Homo sapiens: one gene and its partner. The protein of the gene in region 1 interacts with the protein of each later gene in a biochemical or structural test. Each region holds a gene or a part of one and is shown in the gene's direction. Other genes may lie near its edges.

Region 1 (3,500 bases):
ATGGAAACAACAGCTCGAACTAAAACGAGCCCTTGCTAGAGGCAGGAGTGTTTCATCTTGGCACAGGGGCAGTACTCACTTAAATTTCCAACTCCCTCCAACTCCCCACTACCCTTGTTGGGATAATGTATGCAAAAGATCTATTTTCCATAGAGCCCATGGGGAGCTGGATGTGCTAGAATGGATATTATTTTAATCTTTAGAACGAGAATCTTTCCATATCCATATGCCCACCATTGCTGTCCTAATTTCTTAAACTTCCTGGAATTGTGTCACACGTTGTTTATCAGTAAAATTTCTTCTTCCAGAGAATTTGTTAGGTATGTGGTTTGGAATGATAGGATATCATCAACTTGCAGGGACAGGCTTGTAGGAGGTAGTTCAGATATTCTTGTCTTTCCCTCTAGACTATGAGCAGCTTGGGTGTAGGTACTGTCTTATCTCTGTATCTTTTTAGCACCTGTCTTAGTGTTTGGTACATACTGAGGTGCTCAGTAAGCCTTGGTTAAATAAGGCATTTGATGAGAATCAGTGAGGGACTGATTTGTGGGGAAGGCTTGAAAGGAAGCAAAACAACATAGATTAATCAAATTGCAATGTACTTTTGCAACTTTTACTGTAGTCTGTAGTTTTAACCTTTTATGCGTCTCCTCCCTTAATTTTTTTTTTTTTTTTTTTTTTTGAGACAGGGTCTTGCTCTTGTCATCCAGGCTGGAGTGCAGTGGTGAAATCATGGCTCACTGCAGCCTCAAACTCCTGGGCTCAAGTGGTGCTCCCACCTCAGTCTTCTGAGTAGCTAGGACTATGGGTGCACACCACTATGCTTGGCTAATTTTTGTGTATTTTTGTGGAGATGGGGTCTCTCTATGTAGTCCAGGCTGGTCTCAAACACCTGGGCTCAAGCCATCCTCCTACCTCGGCCTCCTAAAGTGCTGGGATTATAGGTGTGCCCCACCACACCTGGCCCTCCCTTATATTTTTAAGCAAAGTTTCTAGAGATAATGGAGGATTTAAAATTTTAGCTTTTCTTTAATCCTGTTCCTTTCTTGGCAAGTGGTACAAAGAATAGTATAAAAAGTAAGGATCTGGCCTGGTGCGGTGGCTCACGCCTGTGATCCCGGCAGTTTGGGAGGTCCAGGTGGGTGGATCGCTGGGCAACATGGTGAAGACTCCTCTTTACAAAAAATACAAAAATTAGCTGGGCGTGGTGGCATGTACCCGTAGTCCTAGCTACTGGTTGCAGCAAGCCGAGATCATGCCACTGCCCTCCAGACTGGGCTTGCAGAGCCAGATCCTATCTCAAAAAATAATAATAATAAATAAATAAATAATAAGTATCCTAGTCCGTTCATTTCATAATGAACTTCAACACTGAAAACCTTAAATGTTGCCATTTTCTAGGGGAGAGTATATTAAGACATCAGCAGAAAAGTACTGCTTTCAGCCCTGGTTGGAGGTGAATGGTTTCTGTGCTTGTTAATAAAAACGTTAAGAGCTTGGGATGATAGTTTTGAACATCAGTGTTTCAAAGAAAGTATGTTTGGATATCAGTGTATTTTTTAAATCACTGTTTTAGCCACAAAACTTTAGATTTTGTTCATGTATTGGGAAGCTTATGAGTTTAAGAACCGAAATTAGTTTTCTTGGGTAATTTAAAAGGTATTAACAAGGAACTTGCCTACAGGAGTGAACTGTAGGTAATAAGGATGTGAATAAGTACAAATATTCTTTCATGTTCTCTTCCCTCAAAGAAGGGTTAAATGACACACAAAGCTGAAGTAGGGATTGCTCTGCCTAAATTATGCAGCTGCCTCCAAGGTTTCCAATAGAGCATTGATGTAGCCTGGCAGGGAGATTGTAAGAAGGCAAGAACAACTGTTCTGGTTAGAACTAATGAGGGGGAAATTAGGGTATGGATTGATTTGTATTTAATTGTTTAATGTATTTTTCGGAAGTAATTTTTTTCCCTAATTCTACTTGGAATTGCATGTTATTATTAAATATTAAGCATTGAGAATGGGGCCTGAATTTACCACTTTATTCAGGGATCGTGTTCCCTGTTTTTAGGGCCACTTCTTCTCCAGTGAGCCCTTCAGTTTGATTGGTGTGGTGTGGACAATTTAGATCAGGCATATAGTGGGGGAATTATAAAGAGGCAAAGAATTTTCTTATCTTTTTTTTTTTTTTTGAGATGGAGTCTTGCTCTGTTGTCCAGGCTGGAGTGCAGTGGCACGATCTCAGCTCACTGCAACCTCCGCCTCCCGGTTTCAAGCGATTCTCCTGCCTCAGCCTCCCAAGTAGCTGGGACTACAGGTGCGCGCCACCACGCCCTGCTAATTTTTTGTATATTTAGTAGGGATGGGTTTTACCATTTTTGCCAGGTTGGTCTCAAACTCCTGACTTCATGATCCGCCTGCCTTGGCCTCCCAGATTACAGTCTTGAGCCACTGCGCCCGGCCAGAATTTTATCTTAAAGCCTTCCTTGCTGGTCAGCAGTAGGTAATTTGGTCATGACTTTCACAAAACATGTCCCAGGTTGGTTGATGTGATGTGATGACAAAAGCACTTCTCAACTTTTTATTTCAAACTTGCAGGAAAGTTGCTCTAGCACAGTAACTGGTATACTCTTCATTTGCCTAGGTATCATTTGTTAACATGTTGCCACAAATGCTTTATTCTATATTTTTTGGTAAATATGCTAACCAAAAAGGGAATTTCCAATCTGAGACTTCCATAATATGGTGAGGCAAGGCAGCATAACATAATGATTAAGAGTATGGATGGGGAGCTAGACTGCCACGGAGGAAACATGTAACCTAGGGCAAATTGCTTAATCTCTCTCTGCCTTGGCCTCCTTGTCTGTAAAATGGGGATAATATTAACCATCTTATAGATTGTTGTGACACTTAAGTTATTTAATGTATGTGAACTTTATAGAGTAATGCAGAGCTCCTAGTAATGTCTTGTGTTTGCTATTAGAATGGATGCTTCAAAGAACTCAAATTTCGTTTGTTGAACTAATGCCCTTGAAGGTCTTTTTTTTTTTTTTTGAGACGGAGTCTTGCTCTGTCTCCCAGGCTAGAGTGTAGTAGTGCAATCTTTGCTTGCTGCAACCTCTGCCTCCCGGGTTCAAGCAATTCTCCTGCCTCAGCCTCCCGAGTAGCTGGGACTACAGGTGCCCGCCACCACGCCCGGCTGATTTTTGTATTTTTAGTAGAGGAGGGGGTTTCACCATATTGGCCAGGCTGGTCTCGAACTCCTGACCTCAAATGATCCACCCACCTCGGCCTTCCAAAGTGCTGGGATTACAGGCGTGAGCCACCATGCCCGTCCGAAGGTCTCTTAAAACCTGAGAATCTGTGGTAGATGTAGGTGCTTGCATTACAGAATATATGGGCTTCCTGAGTGGGTAAAGCTAACTTTTAAATTTTTTTAATGGGAAAAAATTAGTAATAGGTAATATTGGAGAGTTGTGTGGGTGAGGTTCAAAACAACGGTAG
Region 2 (3,500 bases), on another chromosome or scaffold:
TACAGGGTCCACCGTGATGGCTCCCTCCTGTAATCCCAGCACTTGGGAGGCCAGGGCGAGAGGATCACTTGAGCCCAGGAGTTTGAGACCATGCTGGGCAACATAGGGAGACAGTCTCACTCTGTCCCCAGGCTAGAGTGCAGTGGCCCTGTCTCAGCTCACTGCAACCTCCACATCCCTGGTTCAAGCAATTCTCGTGCCCCAGCCTCCCGAATAGCTGAGATTACAGGCACATGCCACCATGCCCAGCTAATTTTTGTATTTTCAGTAGAGTTGGGATTTCACCATGTTGGCCAGGGTGGCCTCGAACTCCAGACCTCAGGTGATCTGCCTGCCTCAGCCTCCCAAAGTGCTGGAATTACAATCATGAGCCACCACTCTTAGCCTCTACAAAAAAAATTTTTTTAGTTAGCAGGTGTGGTGATGTGCACCTTTAGTCCCAGGAGGCTGAGGTAGGAAGATTGCTTGAGCCTGGAGAGGTCAAGGCTGCAGTGAGCTATGATTATGCCACTGCACTCCAGCCTGGGTGACAGAGTGAGACCCTGTCTCAAGAAAAAAAAAAAAAAAAGAAGAAGAAGATGATGAACACAGATCACAATCCAGGTGCTTGGTAAATAAATGCCTTTACTTATCCAAGTCCTCACACACCTAGGGGAGGAAAACAAAATACAAGTAAGTACTCATGGGCGTTTTTCTCAGAATTCTTATAGGGAGGAAGTTATTGAAAATACTATTCCTTTATTCATATCATATCTATCTAATCTGACTTTTTTTAATGCTTGATTATCTTCATATACATTAAGACTGTGTTTTGTTATTTCCCAGCAGTTACAATAATGCTTAGATATCAAGAGATTCAAGAGTTTTGTTTTTTTGTTTATTTTTTGTTATGAGACAGAGTCTCGCTCTGTTGCCCAGGCTGGAGTGCAGTGGCGCAATCCTGGCTCACTGCAACCTCCACCTTCCAGATTCAAGCAATTCTCCTGCCTCAGCCTCCTGAGTAGCTGGGATTACAGGTGCATGCCACCACACCCAGCTAATTTTTTGTATTTTTAGTGGAGATGGGGTTTCACCATGATAGCCAGCATTGTCTCCATCTCCTGACTTCATGATCCACCCACCTTGGCCTCCCAAAGTGCTAGGATTACAGGCATGAGCCACCATGCCTGGCGTTTGTTTTTTTTGTTTTGTTTTGTTTTGAGACACGGCTTTGCTCTGTCACCCAGGCTGGAATACTATGGCACAATCTCAGCTCACTGCAGCCTGGGCCTCCCAGGTTCAAGTGATTCTCCTGCCTCAGCCTCCCGAGTACCTGGGATTACAGGTGCCCACCACCACACCAAGCTAATTTTTGTATTTTTAGTAGAGCTGGGGTTTCACCATGTTGGCCAGGCTGATCTCAAACTCCTGACCTCAGGTGATCTGCCCACCTCGGCCTCCCAAAGTGCTGGGATTACAGGTATGAGCCACCATGCCCAGACTAGAGTCTTTTAGATAAGTGTGGAAAGGGTCTCCTGCAGTAACCATTTCAAATCAAGGTCTTAGATTTCTGGTTTTTTGCATACAGGTGGCAGTTTTAACACAAACCAGTTCTGGTCATGTCTAGAGGGGAGGAAAACAACCCACAACTCAAATCTGATTTTTTTTAAAGAGTGAAAGAGATGAATTAGGGATAGAATCCAGGATAGATTGAAAAGGAACTGAATTAAGCTAGAAAAAAAATACATCCAGGGAAAGGTTAAGGACTAAATTGGAGGAGAGGGGAATTCATGGGCAAAAAAAAAGCCTATGCTGTTGCATTTTGTAAATGACTATTTCAAAATATTTTCTTTCCTTGATCTAATTTAAAGGTGGTACTTTGGAAAACTTGGCCGAAAAGATGCTGAGCGACAGCTATTGTCCTTTGGAAACCCAAGAGGTACCTTTCTTATCCGCGAGAGTGAAACCACCAAAGGTAAGATAACGAGTTGAAGAAGTTGGCTTGTCATTCAAATCTGTGGATTAGTCAGAGGGGATGAAAGGCTTATCTCTAATGTACAAGGATTTTAAAATGGCACATACCCTCCCTGCCTTGTGAGTGGAGTCCTGTTTTCAGTCTTCCCTCCAGGCTCTAAAACTGCAGACAGCACCAAAAGAACTACAGAGGCCCCAAATCAAGACCTTCCTCCTGAAACGGGCTGGATGCAGCTACACTGCTCCAGGCACACAAGATCGTAGAATTTTCAGAAGTCCTTTAGAATTTTGATTTTCTGAAATCTTAGTTCCTCAGGTGCCAGTCATACAGGTTGTTTTTGCTTTCCTTTTGTTTTTTAAATAACTGAGGACTTCACTTCTCTTCCTCCAACTGTTGGACTTTTCATTATTTAACAACTCCTTACAACCCACAAGAGGAGACAGGTCAAGGAAGAAAAGAGTAGTGGCCTCTAGCTTAATTTGCCAGATTATCCATTCCTGTAAAAAGTGTTGTAAAGCAGAAGCTTGAAGCTCACTTCTAGAGAAACAAGCCTTAGATTTCTTTTGCACATGCTGCTGCTACCTCCCAGTATGCCCCTGGGTAGAGAAGACAAGGGAAGCAAGCTCAGCCATTCATCGTGGTCCTTCTTTACCCTTGGGGGAAAGGAGTGTTGGAATTGAGTCTACGCTGTATTATGCAACAAGGGGTACCGAACAGTGTGTTTAAGAAAAATGTCCAGGAAGCTTTCAGTCTCAAGGGCAGAATCATTTTATTGCTAATATATTCTGACATTTGCAGAACATCAAGAAGCATCTTCTTCCTGTTACTGAGTGGAGATGCTGTGTGTGTGTACATGTGTGTGTGCATCCTTGGTAATTATTAATCAGAGTCAAGAAAATGAGGCCTAAAAAGCAAGCTGATACTCTAAATGATTGGAGCTGCTAATGCTTTCCACGTTTACCAGGTGCCTATTCACTTTCTATCCGTGATTGGGATGATATGAAAGGAGACCATGTCAAACATTATAAAATTCGCAAACTTGACAATGGTGGATACTACATTACCACCCGGGCCCAGTTTGAAACACTTCAGCAGCTTGTACAACATTACTCAGGTAACCTTAATTCTAACTACCTACTAACCATTTGGATGCTGGAGGGAGTGGATAGGCCCAGAGCAGGAAAGTGGAAAGGGGTAAAACTAATATGTACAAAATCACTTATAGAGTATGTTTTCTTTGCCAGCCCTTAATGGTAGGGCTTGGCTGTATAGGTTCTATTGCTATTGTTCTACTGTTGTTATTATTAGTTCCACATGTTTGTCCGAAGATTCTATAATATTTTTGTTTCCCAAGTAGAAAGCAATAGGTTAAATTTTAAAAGTTGTTTGTTTTTTCATCTTCAAGTTGTCTTTTCCCATTCCCCGCGTTGCATGTGAGAAAGCAGTCTCTCGGAGGGCGCTTACATGGGGACTCCTACAAGGAATATTGTGTTTCCACTATCACTTTACCCTCAGCACTGTTGCAGGAATAGCTGCACGTACATTT

The links. The genes of interacting proteins can lie anywhere in the genome.
Region 2: of the proteins of CTNND1 (region 1) and FYN, one has a biochemical effect on the other in vitro, tested with the Homo sapiens proteins (one study listed by BioGRID).

The regions. Positions count from the first base shown.
Region 1 is NC_000011.10:57,764,802-57,768,301, forward strand, and holds part of CTNND1 (catenin delta-1), read left to right. Parts: intron 1-3,500. UniProt on the Homo sapiens protein: Key regulator of cell-cell adhesion that associates with and regulates the cell adhesion properties of both C-, E- and N-cadherins, being critical for their surface stability.
Region 2 is NC_000006.12:111,702,453-111,705,952, reverse strand, and holds part of FYN (tyrosine-protein kinase Fyn), read left to right. Parts: intron 1-1,850; coding exon 1,851-1,954; intron 1,955-2,918; coding exon 2,919-3,068; intron 3,069-3,500. UniProt on the Homo sapiens protein: Non-receptor tyrosine-protein kinase that plays a role in many biological processes including regulation of cell growth and survival, cell adhesion, integrin-mediated signaling, cytoskeletal remodeling, cell motility, immune response and axon guidance.